Linked DNA regions of Homo sapiens. The protein of the gene in region 1 purifies or fractionates together with the protein of each later gene. This does not show direct contact. Each region holds a gene or a part of one and is shown in the gene's direction. Other genes may lie near its edges. The genes, in order: NUTM2F, NUDT5, DNAJC3, MAGED2, SPIN1 and KIF11.

Region 1 (4,202 bases):
CACTTTTTTGGGAAGAGTTACCAGATAAAGTGCAAGATCCCAGTGAAATGTGAATAGCACAGATAAAGGACAGATTTTTTTTTTTGTAAAAGTGTACTCTAAATGTCATATGGATCATAATTATAGTAAAAACTAATTCACTGTTTATCTTCAATTCAAATTCCACTTGGTATTCTTTATTCATACTTGCTAAATCTGGCCACTATGTTCTTTCATGTATTTTTAATTTTAAAAAACAGTCCAACATCTCATTCTAGCAATTTACCTACAGAAATAAAGAGAGGAACCACATTACTGGGACAAATACAGTCACTGCAAATATCAGAAGAATACTAGAACATATTAATATATTAATTTTTACCCCCAAAAAACTGAAAATATTTTTAGACAGCAAAAATAGCTTCATTATGCTTTTGATTGCATAATATATCTCTGGAAAGATGAAAAAGAATCAGATAACACCTATTTCCTCCAGGAAAGAAAATGTGGTGGCCAGAGAAAAGAGGTGGGAGGAAGGCTGGTCATTGTCTATTCCACTGTGCACAATTTGAATTTGGAACCATGCAAAAGTATTGCTTAGTTAAGTTAAAATCATGTAAAAGATACAAAATAAACATTTAACACCAGCACAATATGCTGGGAAACAAAATGAAAGGATTTCTGGTCTCGGTGCTGTAGGTCACATAGCCTCTCTTTCCTGGACTGAGTCTTCCTAAGAAAGGGGACGGGAAGTAAGGCTGGCCTACTGGTGTGGACAGATTCCAGCAACATACATGACCTGGGGGCACAAGGACTGCTTCCTAAACAATGATGAGCACACAGCCACCTAATAGCCTGGATCAGCTGAGGCCATTCTGATTTCAAACACTCAGTCCCCTTGCCTTCCTAAGAACCCCTGTGTTTCTCAGACTGAAAACGTGTTCTGAATTTTGTTAAGTAAGTGTGGCCCCTGTTGAAATTCATCAAGAGTGGGAAAGAGCCAAAGTGGGAAGGAGCATGGGTTGATTGGCACAAAAGTAGGTCTGTTGATAAAGAATGGAAGTAAAGGGGACATCAGGTAGAAGCTTTTGCTGTGAGTCAGAAGGACAATTTAAAAGTTGCCTAAAGAGGCGCACACTGTCTGTGTTGCTGCCATCCAGTTGGATGGCAACCAACTGAACCAAGGGAACCTCAGGTTCTTGCCTACTGGCCAGAGCCCTTCACAGAATGTCCCCCACCCCCGCCAAGCCCGGCTGCCCACTGCCCCTCCCCCTCTGCAGAATGTCTGGGGTCCTGTGTTCCAAACCTGTTTATATGCAAATTATCCCTGCTCCACTTGGACTCAGGAGGATCTGCTGAGTCAGGTCACTCTCTGGGTCCTGCCCTTGACTTTTTTCATTGCGGAAGCTGCCAGACAGTGGTGGTCAGTGCCCAGCCTGAGGGGATGGCTTCAAATGGAGGTGAGCCTGTAGGGATGGGGCATTATCCGAGTCTGCCTTGCCTCAACTCCTTGGGAATTCAAATTTGAACTGTCCCTGGGGACAGCTTATAGGGCTGATGTTGAGGGAGGGAGCACTGGATGTCCCCAGGGACATCACACCTGGGGATGGCCATGGCACCCTGAGTCTGTGGTTAGGGAGGAGGGCTCCTTAGAGGCGGACCAAGATGCCTGGGGGAATACACCGTGTAGTGGAAAGGATGGAGAGGATGGGTTGATCCTTTCTAGAGGGGGACAGGTCACGTCATTGTGTTTGTAGGGAGTGGTGGGATCGTGTTGTGCTGGTGGCCCAGGGAGAATGACGGGCAAGCCTGAGCCCTGTGCCGTGTCTTCAGGCACCTGGAAGGTGCCCTTCCATAGTGTTTAGAGGGATTTGGACTGGAGTTTTCTAGTTCTTAGAGAGGAGTGGGGAGAAGTGGTCTCAGCCAGAAAACTGTTGGGTGGGTTGGCTGTGACAGAGCATGTAGTGACAGCCTCTGGGTGGGCAAGGCTGGGGGCCACTGCAACTGCCACAGCCCAGAGCCTCTCAGCTTCCTCCCCAGAGATGGCTTCTCCGTCAGTTCAGGTAGCTGTTGGCTTTGATTTAACAGGGGTGGGGGCAGAATGGGGAAGTTCAGGCAACACAGGGCCTGGGTTTCCTGAGTTGTTCTGAATTGTTTGCCCTTTGGTGGAAGCTCAGGTCTTCAGACCCACTTCCTCTCGTCAGCTAGCTCATGGCCCGTCCTCTGTACTTTGTGTTACTGTGGAGGTGAAGAATTTGCTCCTGTTCCATTTATACTACCTCATGAACGGGCGACAGGTGTGGATTCTTGCTGGTTCTCAGTGGAAGGCTCTGAAAAGGCTGGTTTCCTTTTCAGTAGAGGAAGGAGAGTAGCGCACAAATAGGAAGACAGTCCTATTATTATTATTATTCAAACTAGGATGTGTGTCCTGACTGATGAGGTGCATGTGCTGTATCCCTTATTCCCCTTGGCTAGAGACTGCATGAGGTCCTAGTGAACAGGGATGAGTTCCAGACAACTCTGCCTCACCTGGCCTGTGGCCCAAGAACCCCTGGTTCTTCGTTGGTCCCTATGTTCAGTTACTGGGAGCTCAAAGGAGAAGGACCAGAGATGGGCTCCCTGTCCCACTATTTAGTGTAACATGACTAGCAGCTGTGAAAATCCCTGGCCGGGCGCGGTGGCTCACGCCTGTAATCCCAGCACTTTGGGAGACCAAGGCATGTGGATCACGAGGTCAGGAGTTCAAGACCAGCCTGACCAATATGGTGAAACCCCGTCTCTACTAAAAATACAAAAATTGGCTGGGCATGGTGGCGGGCGCCTGTAATCCCAGCTACTCAGGAGGCTGAGGCAGGAGAAGTGCTTGAACCTGGGAGGCAGAGGTTGCAGTGAGCTGAGATCGCACCACTGCACTCCAGCCTGGGTGACAGAGCGAGACTCCGTCTCAAAAAAAAAAAAAAAGAAAAAAAAGAAAATCCCTAGACACCTCCCCTGATAGCCCTGCTGCTCACCATTTGCTGGCTGTGTTCTAGTCATGTGCAGCTGTTGCTGGCTACACAATGACAATATCTCAGGGGACTCCACCACTGCTTCTCAGATCTGCTCCCTGGGAACTGAGCTTCCTGAGTGGCAGCTGGGACCACTGAGCACTGAGGAATGGGTGGCCTGAATCTGACCCCTATTTAACACTTGTGTGGGTGGTGCCAGGACAATCACTTGCATGCTGGGCGTGATGTGTTATGGGTTATCTTCAGGGTTCCTAGGGCACTGGCTTGGGTGAGTTTCCATCCAGTGGTTTTCTTTTTTTTTTTTTTTTTTTTTTTTGAGACGGAGTCTCGCTCTGTCACCCGGGCTGGAATGAAGTGGCACGATCTCGGCTCACTGCAGCCTCTGCCTCCTCGGTTCAAGCAATTCTCCTGTCTCAGCCTCCTGAGTAGCTGGGATTACAGGCACGCACCATCAGCTAATTTTTGTATTTTAGTAGAGACGGGGTTTCACCACGTTGGCCAGACTGGTCTTCAACTCCTGACCTCAGGTGATCCACCCGCCTGGGCCTCCCAAAGCGCTGGGATGACAGGCATGAACCAGCACGCCCGGCCTATCCAGTGGTTTTCTTTTGTTGTGTTGAGCTAGGAAAGAAAGGGGTTTACAAGAGCTTCAGGGAAAGGAAGACTGAAGAGGAGATGGGGCCATAATATTCGGAAACTTCTGGTTTCCTGTCGGCCTTCTGAATGCCGAGCACTGCCCTGGGGTAGGCCCCTCACCTGCTGCTGAGCACACTGAGAGCCACCAAGCCACCGAGAGACTCATCCCTGACCCATGGCTTGGGAGATGCCTGTGAGGCTGGTGCAGTCTGCCAGGGACACCCGAGGGAGACCCTCAGAGACAGCAAAGGCTTGGCTGTTTCTTCTTGGCAGACAAGGGTCAGGGAGTCTTGGTGACTGGCGCCAGGCTCTCTAGTGGAGCGACTCTGCCGTGGAGGAACAGAGCATCTGATGCACACTCAGGGACACTTGCAAGCTGCAGAGTTTCCCTGTCACATGCCCTCAGCTGTTGGGACTCCCCTGATTCCCCAGTGACTAGTGTGGACCTGGAGACGCCAGCTCATTCACCTCTTTCCTTTGTCTCCACAGCATACCCAGTGCTGGGACCCGGCGTGACCGTGAACCCTGGCACCTCCCTGTCTGTGTTCACGGCTCTGCCCTTTGCCACACCCGCTCCCG
Region 2 (3,500 bases), on another chromosome or scaffold:
GTTCACGCCTGTAATCCCAGCACTTTGGGAGGCTGAGGCTGGTGGATCACCTGAGGTCAGGAGTTCGAGGCCAGCCTGCCCAACATGGCAAAACCCCATCTCTACTAAAAATGTAAAAATTAGCCGGGTGCAGTGGTAGGAGCCTGTAATCCCAGGTACTCGGGAGGCTGAGGCAGGAGAATCGCTTGAATCCGTGAGGCAGAGGTTGCAGTGAGCCGAGATCATGCCTTTGCACTCCAGCCGGGCAACAAGAGCGAAACTCCATCTCAAAAAAAAAAGTTTACCTAATAAATTATCATCTATGGTACTTTCAAAGGAATAAGTGCCTGTTTTCTTAGTAGGGCTGCAGGTTTCAATATGCTAATGTCTGTCTCTAAATATTTAAACTTCTACGTGGTTTACTTCCTTATTGCTTTCAGGTCTCCATTCAGAAGTCACCAAATTAAACAGGCCTTGCCTGATCACTCCGTGTAGATTACTCTTCCCATCTTCCCCACACTTCTCATCCTTTTTAATCTTTCTTCATGAAACGCTGAGTCACTTGACATAAATTTTGTGTTCTTCCTCACTGTTTTTCCTTTCTCCTCACTGGAAAATGAGGTCCGGGGGAGTGAGGGTCTTTGTCCCTCTCACCACCACTTTTTTTTTTTTTTTTTTTTTTTTAGATGGAGTCTTGCTCTGTCGCCAGGCTGCAGTGCAGTGGCACGATCTCAGCTCACTGCAACCTCCATCTCCTGGGTTCAAGCCATTCTCCTCCCTCAGCCTTCCCTGTAGTTGGGGCTACAGGCGCACCCCACCACGTCCAGCTAATTTTTGTATTTTTAGTAGAGACAGGGTTTCACCATGTTGGCCAGGATGGTCTCCATCTCTTGACCTCGTGATCCACCCGCCCTGGCCTCCCAAAGTGCTGGGATTGTAGGCGTGAGGCGTGAGCCACCGCACCCGGCCTCACCGCCACTTTCCTAAAACATCATCTCACCTTTCACAGGTTGGCCACAAGGGTTACCTATGATAGTCAATCAGATATTTGATTTGTAAACGCACTTTATGAATATTCATACAGTTGGTTTTGTTATTGATTGTATTTTAGAATAGGGAAGCTTGCTGTCTTGGGGACAAATTGAAGATCAGATGGGTAGTATGATCACTTTGGGTCCCAGAAGAAACAAAGAGCAGACTCACTTTTTCCTTTAGGACAGTTGGGAAGAGAGTTGATGCTGGGTGGGCTGTATTTTCTTTGAAGCCGAAGTTAGGTGGGGTAGGTTAGAGAACCGTGGAACGTAAGAGTGCAGTGGCGTGATCTCGGCTCTCTGCAACCCCCAACTCCTGGGTCCAAATGACCCTCCTGCCTCAGCTTCCTGAGTAGCTGGGACTACAGGTGCCCACCACCACACCCGGCTAATTTTTTTATTTTTTATTTTTGTGGAGACAGGGTTTTGCCATGTTACCCAGGCTGGTCTCAGACTCTTGGTCCCCCAAAGGGCTAGGATTCCAGGTGTGAGCCACTGTGCCTGGTCCAAGTAACAGTTCTTAAAAGAAACAACAGAGAAAACACAGGGGAGGAAATCATCAGTGAAGTCGTTCAAGAAAAAAATTCCCTGTAAAGAAGCATAGTAAGAAGTTTCCAGATTGAAAGGACCCACTTGACTTCCCAGTACAATAACATCGACATGAAAGTGACTAACTACAAGCTTCCAGAGGAGGAAGACAGGTCACATGGCAAAAAGATCAAGAATAAGAATAGCTTTGGACTTCTCAACAGCAGCACCAGAAGTAAGACAACTAAGCAATGCCTTACAGTTTCATAGACAACTGGCTTTGGGTCTATAATTCTATATACAGCTGAATTAACAACCATGTGTGTGGGTAAGAAAAAAAGACTTTGACCTTCGGACAGGCAAGGTCCGAAAATGAAGGAATAAAGAAAGAGGAAATAATAATATACAATAAATGGGATAAGGGCCTGCTCTTTTCATAACAGAACTTGTAGTACTACTCGATCCTTTCTCTGCAACTATGACTTTGATACATGCTGAAACTTAAAAGTAAGTGGGGAGGTGGGTCCAGTGGCTCATGCCTGTAATCCCAGCACTTTGGGACACCGAGGCGGGAGGAGGATCGCTTGAGCCCGGGAGTCTGAGACCAGCCTGTGAAACATAGTGAGACCCCACCTCTACCAAAAGTTTAAAACATTAGTTGGCTGTGGTAGCATGCACCTGTAATCCCAGCTACTCAGGAGGCTGAGATGCGAGGAGCACGTGAGCTTGGGAGGTAGAGGCTACAGTGAGCCATGATTTCGCCACTGCACTCCAACCTGTGCAACAGAGTGAGATCTTACATCTCAAAAAATAAGTAAGTTTAGGTGTAACAGATGGATAAAAGACTGAGAGGTGGGCATGGAGAGTGGTAAATCTTTCTTCTGTCTTCCCTTGGAAAGAGTTTAAGATTCGGAGTCAGAAAAATCAGGCTGGGCGCGGTAGCTCACGCCTGTAATCCCAGCACTTTGGGAGGCCAAGGAGGGCAGATCACTTGATGTCAGGAGGTTGAGAGCAGCATGGCCAACGTGGTGAAACCCTGTCTCTACTAAAAATATAAAAATTACCAGGCCTGGTGATGTATGCCTGTAATCCCAGCTACTCGGGAGGCTGAGGCACGAGGATCACTTGAACCCAGGAGGCGGAGGTTGCAGTGAGCTGAGATCGCGCCATTGCACTCCACCCTGGGCAACAGAGTGAGACTCTCTCAAAAAAAACAAAAAAGAAAAAAAAAAAAAGAAAAATCTGATGAAGAAGGGTGGCCTCTAAGTGCCTAGAACAGGCATGGCAGGAGCTTGGCTGTTGTGGCTGAGGGTGACTAGGACTGCTGTCACTTCCTTCCTGGCTAATCCCCGGGCCTCCCTGTTCACATTTCCACCTGCGGCAGTTCCCTCACATACTGAGACAGGCAGCGTTGATGGTAGATGAATTTTTTGCCGTTTAAGTACTTTGACTAGTGTCCTGTGGACGAATGTTTAATTCAGAAAAATAATTTTAGCCTGAACAAATCTCATTATCTTGCAGGGTGAACTTCTCACCTGAGGGCTGTAAAGACTCGTTTGAAAATGGAGAGCCAAGAACCAACGGAATCTTCTCAGAATGGCAAACAGTATATCATTTCAGAGGAGGTATAACTTGTTTTTCACTTTCCCTTCCCTCCCCCACATAAATCTGAGTTTAGCAGAAATATATAGACTGTTGTTACAATGGTGGTCTTTCATTCTTGAAGACAGTTGTAAAGATTTTTCCTACTCCCTTTTTTGGGCTCGGGCACATTTTGCTCTTGTGTGGGAGGAGTAGTGTGTCTCTCTGTGTATTAGTGAAATTGAGACTCTAGGAGATTTGGGCTCTTAACAGAAAAATTCTTAATCCTTCCTGTATTTCCCTAGATAGAAGAAGAAAGAATATATGCATTTGCGGACTCAGATATTTCATATGTAGTTGTCACAACTTGGCTGTTGATGG
Region 3 (3,350 bases), on another chromosome or scaffold:
GGCAAGGTTAGTCAGGTCTGGCTATATTTCCACTGTTGTTTCATTTAATAAGATGGCATCTCCTCTTGAGATATGTTCTTCTTACCTTTTAAGAAGATACTATTTAAGAAGTGAACTATTCAGTCTTTGTATACTGAATGCTTTTTCCCTAAAAAATGTTAATCAAGAATATTGAATATTTATGGCACTCTTGATGCTGCATTTGAAAGCTGAAGGAATTACTTTAGATAGATAGGAATTGCTACCTTTATTCTGGAAAGGTTTTGTTTCTGCCTCAAAGCATTTTGAAGTGTTTTAACCATTAAAGGGTCTAATTTTTTTTTCTTAATGAAATCAAGCATTTTAATTCACTGTGGGAGGCATCCTGACCACGGACATCCATAACAGCAAAGCACAAATCGTTTTCGTCTGTAGTCATATCCTGAAACATAGGTGGACAAATTTTTAACTGAGAGACAAAAATCACATAGTTGAATTGAGCAGAACACTTAAGTGCTTTCTGCATCTATTTAGGAGTCTATTTCTTACCAATAAACTTGACAACGCATTTGGAAAACTAGTGAACACCTTACAGCTTTCATTTTGCTTTAATGTTTCAATTCAAGCCGGTGTAAAAATAATTTCCAAGGCATTTCTGTTTATTCTTTAGTAATCTCACTACTGGCTATGTCAGCAATATCTTTTTCAATCTGGTTCCTTTTGTATATGATGTCACTGTGACCTCTTTGAAATATAGTGATGGCTTTTACCTACTTTGAAAAGAATTTTCACATAGAGTCAGAAAAAAAAGGAAATATCAAATCACTTGCCTTTCCACTTGGAGAGCACGACAGTTGCCAACAACAAGGGGTCAAGGGCCGCACAGGAGATGTGTGGGGGCCTGGCCACCTCCCACCTGCTGCCCAGAGGCTTGTTTGCATTTTCATTTTTTCTCCACTTGTAACAACCATAGTTTCAGCTCCTAAATTCTTATCATGGATTTACTTAGTCATCTTAACTGACCTGCAGTTACTTGCCTGTTTTCAGTGAAGAGAGAGAAGCAGCTCTGGTGCCACATGCCAGTGCCATGGAGGGAAATGAATTCTCTGCAATCTGTTGTTTCGCTGATTCATGAAGAAAGTAACAACTGTTGAGTTTCAGCCTTGATGGCTGTCGGCAGTTTTCTGGTGTCCACCCAAACGGAGAGACAGTCACTCCTGCTTACCCTAATGTGTGACTGAGAAGCAGCCTGGGTGTGTAAAGAGATAGTCATTCCCCCTGCCTGTCTCACTGTAGGGTAGCATTATCCACTGTAAAACCATACTACTTTCATTTTCCCTTGGGGACTACAGGTGCCAGGTAACCTTTTTTTTTTTTTTTTTTTTTTTTTGAGACAGAATCTTGCTCTGTTGCCCAGGCTGGAGTGCAGGGACACCTCCCGGGTTCAAGCAGTTCTCCTGCCTCAGCCTCCAAGTAGCTGGGACTATAGGCACGCACCACCATGCCTGGCTAATTTTTGTATTTTTAGTAGAAATGGGGTTTCACTGTGTTAGCCAGGATGGTCTTGATCTCCTGACCTTGTGATCTGCCCGCCTTGGCCTTCCAAAGTGTTGGGATTACAGGCGTGAGCCACTGCGCCTGGCCATCAGGTAACCTTTATGGCTCTTTCAGGAAAAGTGAAATCAGAGAGGCGTACCCTAGCCACAGCTGTTGTATTCTGCTCTTCTTTCCTTTTTGGTGAGCTTCATGGGTGGAGTTATCAGTGGTCTGTACTTTGTGGATATTTTGCCCAGCAGGAAGTATTAGACACATCAGTCTAGAAGCATTGTGAAAAGGTTCCAAAACGGGAGACAAAATTTAATTCATTCCTCAGTTCTGAAAGTTTGTGCTTTCTTACCATGAATAGATGAAAACTTGAAAAAAATCTTGACAGTTTACTAATGTGAATCAGATGTAACGTACTACTAATTCTACAATGCCTTTCTCTTTAGTCAGTATTAAAAATCTTTTTTAAAGTATTGGTATGAAAACAAATTTTTGTTGCCCTGATAATGGAATTTTAAAACTACCCACAGTTTAAGAGAAAACATAACTTGGTAAAAAAGGTAGCCAATAAAACCACAATTTGAAATTGATACCATTTTCTACTCACAATGGATGATGAAAAATTTCACCTTTAAATGGGTCAGAAGTTGTCTTTGACATTTACCATGAAAAAACTACATAAAATGGCTCCCTGGTGAGGTTACAGACACGGCCCTGGTGATGGGCGTTGCAAAGTTTTCACTGAGCACACAGCAATGGTATCACCTAGAGAAGTTCACGCAACTTTGTTGAATGTAGTTGACTTTTCCAAATTTATAAAGGAAGGAAGAAGGCAAATGTTAATTTGCCAACAACGAATATCCTTTTTCTAAATCAGATCATTCCTTTTTTGTTAGTGGCAGTTTATCCTGTAATTTCAAATGACGTTAAGAGGTGGGATTATTTGGGGGTTTTTTTTGTTTGTTTACAGATGATCTCATTTGCTGAATGATTGATTTAAGAGTAAAATTAGCCACTGCGTGGCTTTGTGTATAGTAACCGGTTTTGTTGCACTTGTCTGTGGCTGAAACACTTACCTGCAGTGGAAAGCCGAGCAAGGAGGAGGTAAACATTGGAGATGTTTGTGAAAATATTACTCTTGCTGTGAGGTTTTAGTTTGTTTTGAATGAGAAAAGACTAAGTAACTTAATCCATCTCAATGTAGTGTTTTAATAAAAAAGGAACCTAATATTTGAAATGGGTCTCAGACATGTCTACAAATATGGGTACTATTTTTATGCCCGTGTATTTTCACATTTAATAAAAATATTTATGGTCATATCAGTATTTCCTTGCTTTTGATTCATTTTTGTCCTTGAGTATAAAATTCTAAGAAAGTCCGTCTTAGGAAAAGTCTATTATTTCCAGCTTTGCTTCACGCAAAACCAGTGACTGAGGTGACAAAAGGGCTCTTCCTTTACACAAGTTGACAGGGAAGGTCAGAACACACAAAGCAGAAAGGGCTAAAATAAAATCTCTTAACCCTCAAAAGTCCTAGGACAACTAAGGACTTAAAAAGTGGACAAGTCTTCCATTTCAGTGCTATTAAAATGTAACACTTAAATTGGCTTTGTCTGAAGATTTTCTCTTCTCTTTTATACCCCATTTGTACATTTCTGTTAAGGTCCTAAGTTGGGAGGAAGGAAGGACACTATAGCCTATCTATCTCAAATTTCCAGCTACAAACAGAAGGAACTGCCTTCTCAGTTAATGTATTCTGCATATCTTAAGAAAGATCCAAGGAGAGCTACGATATGTAAATGTATACAGAACTTTTCCAGAAAGCT
Region 4 (2,886 bases), on another chromosome or scaffold:
GATGCATGTGTCTATGTGTGTATGTATTTGCATATTTGCATGTATGCAGGTGGGATTATTCCTTGGGCGGTGATGGGAAACAGGAGCAGCACATGTTTCCTGATCTGTTACATATACCTCAACATTTGTCTTGAGACCAGTTCTGCAAGGGAGGGATTATCATTACCATCATTGTACGTATGCAGAAACTGAGGTTTAGAGAGGTGAAGTCATTTGGTCAGGGTTACACAGGTAGCAAGTAGAAGAGTTATGTTTAGAACTTGGCTCCAAAGCCTTAGTTCTTTTTATTCTGCTAACTAGAGCTTCATAGAAATTAATTTCCGTAAAGAAATGACATAGAATGGTAGCTTCAGGCAACCAGGTACCATGCTGGGGAGTTGACTTGTACATCTCATTTCATTTTCATAACTACCCTGCAGCTGTCATCCCATCCCCGTTTTACAGTTGAGGGACCTGGGGCTCCGAGAAGGGAGATCTGAGCATGGCCCACAGCTGGTATGGGCCTGGAGCCCAGTCCTCTTGAATTTCTGGCCAAAGCTCACCTATCCTTGGTCCTTGGAGGACATGCAAACACTCACACAGCCACACGCATGTGCACACAGAAACACACACAAAGGGTCAGGAATTCAGCATGTGTGAAGCATGCTGCTATTGGCTGTTCTTCCTCTGTAGTCTTTCTGGTCATTTTCTGTGGTGGACCTTTCTGGGCTTGGCCAGGCTGAGGCCAAGACACTTGCAGTGGGGTGTGCTCAGAGCAGGGGGCCCAAAGAATGGCTCCTCTGTTTACAACACACCCAACAGGAATCTGGGGTCATTGTGATGAGGGCGTCAAACTTGTGGCTTCCCTATGAACAAACGTCCCCCAACACCTCTATGTGGCTTCTGGGCAAGACCAGTGGGACAGGGCTCAATATTGGAAGAAAGACTGTAGTAATTAGTGGATGATGTTGCCATCTGGAGCCTGTCCAGTCTATGCATGGGTAGGCCATGAATGGTCTTAGAAATAAAGGCTTTGAACCTCTCTTTCCAAGGTACCTGGACTATGCCAGAGTCCCCAATAGCAATCCCCCTGAATATGAGTTCTTCTGGGGCCTGCGCTCTTACTATGAGACCAGCAAGATGAAAGTCCTCAAGTTTGCCTGCAAGGTAATTGGAGAGCTCCTTGAGCTTGGCAAGTCAAGAGCATGGGGTGCCCCTGGCTGGGGCAGGCTGTGTGCAGAGCAGCCTGCAGTTCAAATCTGAATGTTTTGGTGCTTCTGTTAATTGTCAAAACACTGTAACAGGCACTTTATCTGAATCATTTAAGCCTTACAACCTGATATGTCATTGCCCTGTTACAGATGAGAAAACCGAGGCCCAGAAAGGTTGGTAGGTGACATGTCCAAAGTCATGGGGCTAGGAAGTGTCAGAGCAGGGATGGAATATTAGGTGCATAATTACTGGTAATACTGTATTATTACTATTATCTTTTTATACTAAGCATGTAGCATAGTGCCTAGCATAAAGGTAGATGCTTAATCCTCTTATGCTCCTTCTGATGGTTATTTACATAGTAATACTGTATTATTACTATGGCTTAATCCCTCTATGCTCCTTCTGATGGTTATTTTTGTTTCAGGTACAAAAGAAGGATCCCAAGGAATGGGCAGCTCAGTACCGAGAGGCGATGGAAGCGGATTTGAAGGCTGCAGCTGAGGCTGCAGCTGAAGCCAAGGCTAGGGCCGAGATTAGAGCTCGAATGGGCATTGGGCTCGGCTCGGAGAATGCTGCCGGGCCCTGCAACTGGGACGAAGCTGATATCGGACCCTGGGCCAAAGCCCGGATCCAGGCGGGAGCAGAAGCTAAAGCCAAAGCCCAAGAGAGTGGCAGTGCCAGCACTGGTGCCAGTACCAGTACCAATAACAGTGCCAGTGCCAGTGCCAGCACCAGTGGTGGCTTCAGTGCTGGTGCCAGCCTGACCGCCACTCTCACATTTGGGCTCTTCGCTGGCCTTGGTGGAGCTGGTGCCAGCACCAGTGGCAGCTCTGGTGCCTGTGGTTTCTCCTACAAGTGAGATTTTAGGTATCTGCCTTGGTTTCAGTGGGGACATCTGGGGCTTATGGGGCTGGGATGAGGAGCTGGATGATTCTAGGAAGGCCCAAGTTGGAGAATGATGTGGAGAGTGTGCCAAGACACTGCTTTTGGCATTTTATTCCTTTCTGTTTGCTGGATGTCAATTGACCCTTTTATTTTCTCTTACTTGTGTTTTCAGATATTGTTAATCCTGCCAGTCTTTCTCTTCAAGCCAGGGTGCATCCTCAGAAACCTACTCAACACAGCACTCTAGGCAGCCACTATCAATCAATTGAAGTTGACACTCTGCATTAAATCTATTTGCCATTTCTGAGTTTATTGCTTTTTTTGGCGGGCTGTCACATTTTGGTATCACATTTAAAAATCAGTGAGTTGGGAAAGTTTCCACCTCAGTCTGTGTTTAGTTTGAGGTGATATTGTTGGATTCCCAGGAGCGAGATTAACACACCTTTCTGGGATAGATTGGGCCTCACGTCTAATTGTTGGATTCCCAGGAGCGAGATTAACACACCTTTCTGGGATAGATTGGGCATCACGTCTAGCCTTCAGGGTGGTGGGATTTTAGTGGGGTGGAGTTCAAGAGATTGTAGTTACAGAGGACACACTTTGAAGGAGAGGCTTGAGGTCGGCAAGTCTAGAGCAGAAAGTGTAAGTAGAGGAGACTGGACATCAAATATAGAATCCCTTTTTGAGAAATTTGAATGAGGAGAGAGAGGGGTACAGAGCTAAATGGAGATACAGGAACAAGGGAGCATTTTCTTGGGGAAGGAGAGAGAGACTTGAGTAGGGAGGAGTCAACGGAGAGGGAGAAGT
Region 5 (3,500 bases), 5.9 Mb from region 1:
GGACTACAGGTGCCCGCCACCACGCCCGGCTAATTTTTGTATTTTTAGTAGAGACGGGGTTTCACTATGTTAGCCAAGATGGTCTCGATCTCCTGACCTCGTGATCTGTCCGCCTCGGCCTGCCAAAGTGCTGGGATTACAGGCGTGAGCCACCGCGCCTGGCCTATTTAATGTATTTTTTAACATGTAGAACATTTATGTGAACATTTATGTAGTTAAAAAATCTGATCTGTGTTAAAAAGTTATGTTCACAGCTTCACTTTAATTCTGTTCCTCCACGAATTTCTCTCTTGCCCCAGTTGTTTTTGCTTTGTTTTTCTGATATTTCATTTTTGCAAATGTAAGCATATGTGTATATTTTTGTTTCCCTTTCCTACACAATAGGCAGCGTTCTATGCACACTGCTCTGCCGTTCTATGCACACTGCTCCCTTTTACTTAATTTATTCTGGAGAGCGCTTCATTGAAGTGCGTGCTTGCAACTCATCTCCTAATGATGAACATTTGGGTTGTTTATATTCTCTTGGCTGTTATAAATATTGCGGCAATGAATAACCTTGTGGGTATATTGTTTTTTATTTGTGCAGATACAGCTTTAAGATAGATGTGGGGTGAAAGGTAAACACATTTGTAGTTTTGTTAGTGTCAAAATGTTACATTTTCTTTTTAAAACTTTTTAATTTTTTGTAGAGATGAGGTCTCACAGTGTTGCCCAGGATGATCTTGAACTCCTGACCCCAAGCAGTTCTTTTACCTGGGCTTCCCAAAAAACTTGGGATTACAGGCGTCAGGCATCAATACAGCCTAAAAAAATTACATTTTCAGGCTCAGTGTGATGGCTCACACCTGTAATCCCAGCACTTTGGGAGGCTGAGGTGGGCCGATCATGAGGTCAGGAGTTCAAGAACAGCCTGACCAACGTGGTGAAACCCCATCTCTGCTAAAAATACAAAAATTAGCCTGGCGTGGTGGCGCGTGCCTGTAATCCCAGCTACTCGGGAGGCTGAGGCAAGAGAATCACTTGAACCTGGGAGGCAGAGACTGCAGTGAGCTGAGATTGCGCCACTGCACTCCAGCCTGGGTGACAGAGGGAGACTCCGTCTCAAAAACAACAGCAACAACAACAAAAAAACCCGTCTCTACTAAGAATACAAAAATTGGCCAGGCATGGTGGCCTGCGCCTGTAATCCCAGCTACTCCTCATGAGAGTCACTTGAACTTGGGAGGTGGAGGTTGCAGTGAGCTGAGATCGCGCCATTGCACTTCAGCCTGGGTGACAGAGTGAGACTCCATCTCAAAAAAAAAAAAATTACATTTTTAAAAGGCAGATCTGACCATGTCAGCTTTTTACTTAAAACTCTAAATGGTGGCCAGGTGGGTGCGGTGGCTCACACCTGTACTGTACTCCCAGCACTTTGGGAGGCTGAGGTGGGCGGATTACCTGAAGCTGGGAGTTTGAGGCCAGCCTGGCCAACATGGTGAAACCCCGTCTCTACTAAAAATACAAAAATTAGCCAGGTGTGGTGGCGCATGCCTGTAATCCCAGCTACTCAGGAGGCTGAGGCAGGAGAATTGCTTGAACCTGGGAGGCGGAGGCTGCAGTGAGCTGAGATCACACCCCTGCACTCCAGACTGGGCAACAGAGTGAGACTCCGTCTCAGAAAACAAAACAGAAAAACTCTAAATGGCTTTCCAGTGCCTTAAGGACAAAAGTTTATAATGTAGCCTCAAGGGTACACATATAGTTGGTGTACATATAGCTTTACATCCCTTAACAATGGGATACATTCAGAGAACCTCGTTGTGTACCTCATAGAGTATACTTACACAAACCTATATGGGACAACCTACTAGGCACCTAGGCTATGTAATATGGCTTAATGCTCCTAGGCTACAAACCTGTACAGCATATGACTGAACTGAATACTGTAGACTATTGGAACACAGTGCTGTGTAGGTATTTATTTATCTAAACATATCTAAGGACAGAGAAAGTACAGTAGAAATGTGGTATAAAAGAGAAATGGCATGCCTGTGTAGGGCACTGAACCATGAATGGAGCTGTCAGGACTGGAAGTTGCTCTGGGTTGAGTCTGTGAGTGAGTGGTGAGTGAATGTGAAGGCCTAGAACATTACTGTACACTACCGTAGACTGTATGTAAACACTACAGTTAGGCTACACTAAATTTATAAAAAGTTTCTTCAGTAATTTACCTTAGCTTACTGTAATTTTTTTAACTTAATAAGCTTTTTAACTTTTTTTTAAACTTTCTGTCTTTTTAAATAACACGTAGCTTAAAACAGCCTCATAATATGGATCCACTGTAGTATATGTGGTCTGTTGTGTTGACAGAAATGTCATTAGGTGGTGCATGACTAATTACTTTTGGGCCTCAGCCTCATCTTGTACTGTTTTTCCCCTTGCTTTCCTTTGCTCCAGTTGTGTGGGGCCTCCTTCATTCTCCTGTGCTCACCATATTCTCCACCAGGAATCTTGGCACTTGTTCTTTTCCTCTGCCTGGAATGCCTTTCTTTGTTAACAGTTATTCCTGGTCTTTAGAGTTTGGCTCAAGCATCACTTTTAATGAAATTTTCTGTGTGCGTGCTTGCACATTTTCATAAGATAAAGAGATTGGACTGTACTGATATTCATCACCGACTCCAACAAGCATCAGTTGTCTGAAGTGTTTTTTTTTTTTTCCCCAGTCTTGCTCTGTCTCCCAGGCTGGAGTGCAGTGGTGCGGTCTCAGCTCACTGCAGTCTCCACTTCCCAGGTTCTAGCAATTCTCACTCCTCAGTCTCCCAAGTAGCTGGGAGTACAGGTGCGTGCCACCATGCCTGGCTAATTTTTTTGTATTTTTAGTAGAGACAGGGTTTCACCTTGTTGGCCAGACTGGTCGCCATCTCCTGACCTCAAGTGATCTGCCCTCCTCTGCCTCCCAAAGTGCTGAGATTACAGGTGTGAGCCACCGTGCCCAGCCTGAAGTTGTTTTTTTGAGACGAGGTCTCACTCCAGTTGCCTAGGCTGTAGTGCAGTGGCACAGTTTTGGCTCATTGCAGCCTCGACCTTCCCGGACTCAGGTGATCTTCCCATCTCAGCCTCCCGCGTAGCTGAGACTACAGGCATGTGCCACCATGCCTGGCTAGTTTATTTTTGTATTTTTAGTAGAGACGGGATTTTGCCTTGTTGCCCAGGCTGGTCTCGAGCTCCTGAACTCAAGCAGTGTACCTGCCTCAGCCTCCCAAAGTGCTGCCTCAGCCTCCCACCTGTGCCACTGCACTACAGGCATGAGTCACCGTGCCTGGCTGTCTGAAGTTCTTGAATTTTTTTGACTTTTCTGCAGTCAAGTCCTCTTGGTGCTTATCAGAATTACAATGTTATATTAGTTTATGTGATTTAATTAATTTTAGTTTTCCCACAAAGGCTGAGTTTCATGAAAGCAGAACCATTCCTGTTTTTGCCTGTAATTACTTTTCTGGTATCTAGCTCAGTGTCTGAAT
Region 6 (3,500 bases), on another chromosome or scaffold:
AGGAGCTGGGACTACAGGCGCCTGCCATCTCTCCCGGCTAATTTTTTGTATTTTTAGTAGAGACGGGGTTTCACCATATTAGCCAGGATGGTCTCCATCTCCTGACCTTGTGATCTGCCCGCCTTGGCCTCCCTAAGAGCCGGGATTACAGGCGTGAGCTACGGAGCCCGGCCTTGAGTTACTTCTTACTTTTAGCTATTATGAATAATGTTGCTATGAATATGGGTTTTCAATTCTTTTGGGTATTTACCCAGAATTGTAATTGCTGGATCATATGATAATTCTATTTTAAAGTTTTTGAGGAACCGACAAACTATTTTCCACAGTGGCTGGACCATTTTACATTCCTACCAACAGTGCATAAGGGTTCCAATTTCTCCACATCCTCACCAACGTTTATTTTCTGTTTCTTTTTTTTTTTTCAAGTAGCCATCCATTGGGTGTGAGGTGCTATCTCATTGTAGTTTTGATTTGTATTTCCCTAATGATTAATGATGTTGAGCATCTTTTCATGTGTTTACTGGCCATTTTGTGTATCTTTGGAGAAATGTCTGTTTAAGTCCTTTGCCCATTTTTAAATTGGTTTGCTTTTTTGTTGTTGAGTTTTAGGAATTTTCTATATATTTTGGATATTTTCAGATACATAAACGGCAAAAATTTTTTCCCCATTACTGTGGTTTGCCTTTTTACTCATTGATACCGTGTGGTCTTTTCCTTTCTTTTTCTTTTTGGAACCAGTGCATGGCCTCTTTGTTGATTCTGTGTTTGGCCCCAGTGCAGCCTGTTCTGTGCTATGTGTCTGCAGTGCTGAAACCAGGCCTACCCAGCACCATACAGAAGTCCAGGCTGTAGATACCAATGCATGGGTCACATTTGATACCCAAATCTGTGTGTTCCTGGATCTCCAAACCAAAGTTTCCAGTATCTGAGAAGTTGTTCTTTCTTGATTCACACTCCTGCATCTTTAGACCTTTCTTCAGGGTTTCTTCTGCTTTGGCCCTTTGTGCAGTGGGTGGCAATCTTCACTTCTCCTGATGCCAAAGGATCTGACAATGTATTTGACTTTGGAGAACACAGGGGTCTGGCCTATGAGCTGCTCCAACACCTTGGCTGCTGGGGTCAGTCATCTCCAGTCTCCTCCATACAGATGTTGAGACAGAAAATCGTTCTGTCACCCAGGCTGGAGTGCAGTGGCACAGTCTCGGCTCACTGTAACCTCTGCCTGTCAGGTTCAAGCAATTCTTATGCTTCAGCCTCCCAAGTATCTGGGATTACAGGTGTGCACCACCATGCCTGGCTAATTTTTTGTATTTTTAGTAGAGATGGGGTTTCGCCTTGTTGGCCAGGCTGGTCTTGAACTACTGGCCTCAAGTGATCCACCCATTTTGGCCTCCCAAAGTGCTGGGATTATGAGTGTGAGCCCTCATCTGGCCAGAGTTCTCTTTTTTTTACCTTGATCTTGCACTATGATGGAGAAAAGGAAGATAAAGTCTTTTTTTTTCCCTTGGGTTTGTTTGTTTGTTTGTTTGTTTGTTTTTTGAGACGGAATTTTGCTCTCGTTGCCTAGGCTGGAGTGCATTGGTACGATCTTGGCTTACTGCAACCTCCGCCTCCTGGGTTCAAGCCATTTTCCTGCCTCAGCCTCTAGAGTAGCTGGGATTACAGGCATGCGCCACCACGCCTGGCTAATTTTGTATTTTTAGTAGAGATGGGGTTTCACCATGTTGGTCAGGCTGGTCTTGATCTCCTGATCTCAGGTGATCCGTCCACCCTGGCCTCCCAAAGTACTGGGATTACAGGCGTGAGCCCGTGCCTGGGCTATTTTTTTTTTCTCCCCTTTAAATATAGTATCTTGCTTTATTGCCCAGACTTGTTGTGAACTCCTGGACTCAAATAGTCCTCCTACCTCAGCCTTCCAGGTAGCTGGGATCACAGGGATGCTGTCTTTTGATACACAAACATTTTAAATTTTTATGAAGTCCAGTTTGTCTTTTTGTTTTTGTTCCCTGTATCTTTGGTGTTATATCCAAGAAATCATTGCCAAATCCATTGTTGTGAAGCTTTTGCCTTATGTTTTCTTCTAAGAGTTTTATAGCTTTAGGTCTTACATACATTTTTGATCCATTTTGAGTTAATATTTGTATATTGTGTTAGATAAGGGTCCAACCTCATTCTTTTGCATATGGATATTTAGTTTCCCAGCACCATTTGGTGAAAAGCTTGTCTTTTTCTGATTGAATGGTCTTGGCAACCTTATTAAAAATCATTTGCTCATATGTAAGAGGGCTTATTTCTAAGTGCTGTTATGTTCCATTGGTCTATAAGTCTGTCTTTATGTCAGTACCACATGGTTTTGATTATTGCAGCTTTGTAGTAAGTTTTGAAATCAGGAAGTGTGAGTCCTCCAGCTTTGTTCTTTTTCAAGATTGTTTTGGCTATCTGGACTCCCTTGGGATTCCATATGAATTTGAGGATGAATTTTTCTATTTTTGTAAAACACGTCATTGGGATTTTAATAGGGATTACATTGAATCTATAGATCACTTTGGGTAGTATTGGCATCTTAACAATATTAAGTCTTTCAGTTCATGAACAAGGGATGTGTTTCCATTTATTTATGCCCCTTAATTTCTGCCAGCAGTTTTTTTTTGTTTGTTTTTGTTTTGAGATGGAGTTTCGCTCTTGTTGTCCAGGCTGGAGTGCAGTGGCACAATCTTAGCTCATTGCAACCTCCACCTCCCGAGTTCAAGTGATTCTCCTGCCTCAGCCTCCTGAGTAGCTGGGATTACAGGTATGTGGCACCACGACCAGCTAATTTTTGTATTTTTACTAGAGACAAAGTTTCACCATGTTGGTCAGGCTGGTCACGAACTCTTGACCTCAGGTGATCCACCCACCTTGGCCTCCCAAAGTGCTGGGATTATAGGCGTGAGCCACTGCGCCTGGCCTCAGCAGTGTTTTATAGTTTTCATTTTATAAGTCTTTCACCTCCTTGGTTAAATTAATTACTAATATTTTATTCTTTTTGGTGCTATTTTAAATTGAGTTGTTTTTGTAATTTCCTTTTTAGATTGTTCATTCTTAGTGTATAAAAATGTAACTGGAGGCTGGACGCAGTGGCTCTCACCTGTTATCCCAGCACTTTGGGAGGCAAGGTGGGCCTCCCAACTCCTGATCACGAGATCAGGAGTTCAAGGCCAGCCTGGCCAACATAGTGAAACCCTGTCTCTACTAAAAATACAAAAATTAGCCATGCATCGTGGCGCGTGCCTGTAGTCCCAGCTACTTAGGAGGCTGAGGCAGGAGAATCGCTTGAACCTGGAAGGTGGAGGTTGTGGTGAGCCAAGATCGTGCCACTGTACTCCAGCCTGGGCAACAGAGTGAGACTCTGTCTCAAAAAAAAAAAAAAAGAAAAAAGAAACGTCGCTGGATTTTGCTTGTTGACTTTCTATCCAGCTACTTTGCTGAATTCACTTATTAGTTCTAACAGTTTTTTTTTG

What was found.
Region 2: the proteins of NUTM2F (region 1) and NUDT5 purify together in Homo sapiens (affinity purification with mass spectrometry; one large-scale study listed by BioGRID and IntAct). This does not show direct contact.
Region 3: the proteins of NUTM2F (region 1) and DNAJC3 purify together in Homo sapiens (affinity purification with mass spectrometry; one large-scale study listed by BioGRID and IntAct). This does not show direct contact.
Region 4: the proteins of NUTM2F (region 1) and MAGED2 purify together in Homo sapiens (affinity purification with mass spectrometry; one large-scale study listed by BioGRID and IntAct). This does not show direct contact.
Region 5: the proteins of NUTM2F (region 1) and SPIN1 purify together in Homo sapiens (affinity purification with mass spectrometry; one large-scale study listed by BioGRID and IntAct). This does not show direct contact.
Region 6: the proteins of NUTM2F (region 1) and KIF11 purify together in Homo sapiens (affinity purification with mass spectrometry; one large-scale study listed by BioGRID and IntAct). This does not show direct contact.

Annotation. Positions count from the first base shown.
Region 1 is NC_000009.12:94,325,845-94,330,046, reverse strand, and holds the start of NUTM2F (NUT family member 2F), read left to right. Parts: upstream 1-1,402; 5' UTR 1,403-1,423; coding exon 1,424-1,439; intron 1,440-4,112; coding exon 4,113-4,202.
Region 2 is NC_000010.11:12,185,892-12,189,391, reverse strand, and holds part of NUDT5 (ADP-sugar pyrophosphatase), read left to right. Parts: intron 1-3,059; 5' UTR 3,060-3,100; coding exon 3,101-3,163; intron 3,164-3,500. UniProt on the Homo sapiens protein: Enzyme that can either act as an ADP-sugar pyrophosphatase in absence of diphosphate or catalyze the synthesis of ATP in presence of diphosphate.
Region 3 is NC_000013.11:95,792,139-95,795,488, forward strand, and holds the end of DNAJC3 (dnaJ homolog subfamily C member 3 precursor), read left to right. Parts: 3' UTR 1-2,850; downstream 2,851-3,350. UniProt on the Homo sapiens protein: Involved in the unfolded protein response (UPR) during endoplasmic reticulum (ER) stress.
Region 4 is NC_000023.11:54,813,630-54,816,515, forward strand, and holds the end of MAGED2 (melanoma-associated antigen D2), read left to right. Parts: intron 1-740; exon of another isoform or gene 741-871; intron 872-1,031; coding exon 1,032-1,146; intron 1,147-1,618; coding exon 1,619-2,053; 3' UTR 2,054-2,061; intron 2,062-2,251; 3' UTR 2,252-2,386; downstream 2,387-2,886. UniProt on the Homo sapiens protein: Regulates the expression, localization to the plasma membrane and function of the sodium chloride cotransporters SLC12A1 and SLC12A3, two key components of salt reabsorption in the distal renal tubule.
Region 5 is NC_000009.12:88,394,944-88,398,443, forward strand, and holds part of SPIN1 (spindlin-1), read left to right. Parts: intron 1-3,500. UniProt on the Homo sapiens protein: Chromatin reader that specifically recognizes and binds histone H3 both trimethylated at 'Lys-4' and 'Lys-9' (H3K4me3K9me3) and is involved in piRNA-mediated retrotransposon silencing during spermatogenesis.
Region 6 is NC_000010.11:92,596,130-92,599,629, forward strand, and holds part of KIF11 (kinesin-like protein KIF11), read left to right. Parts: intron 1-729; exon of another isoform or gene 730-1,160; intron 1,161-3,500. UniProt on the Homo sapiens protein: Motor protein required for establishing a bipolar spindle and thus contributing to chromosome congression during mitosis. Required in non-mitotic cells for transport of secretory proteins from the Golgi complex to the cell surface.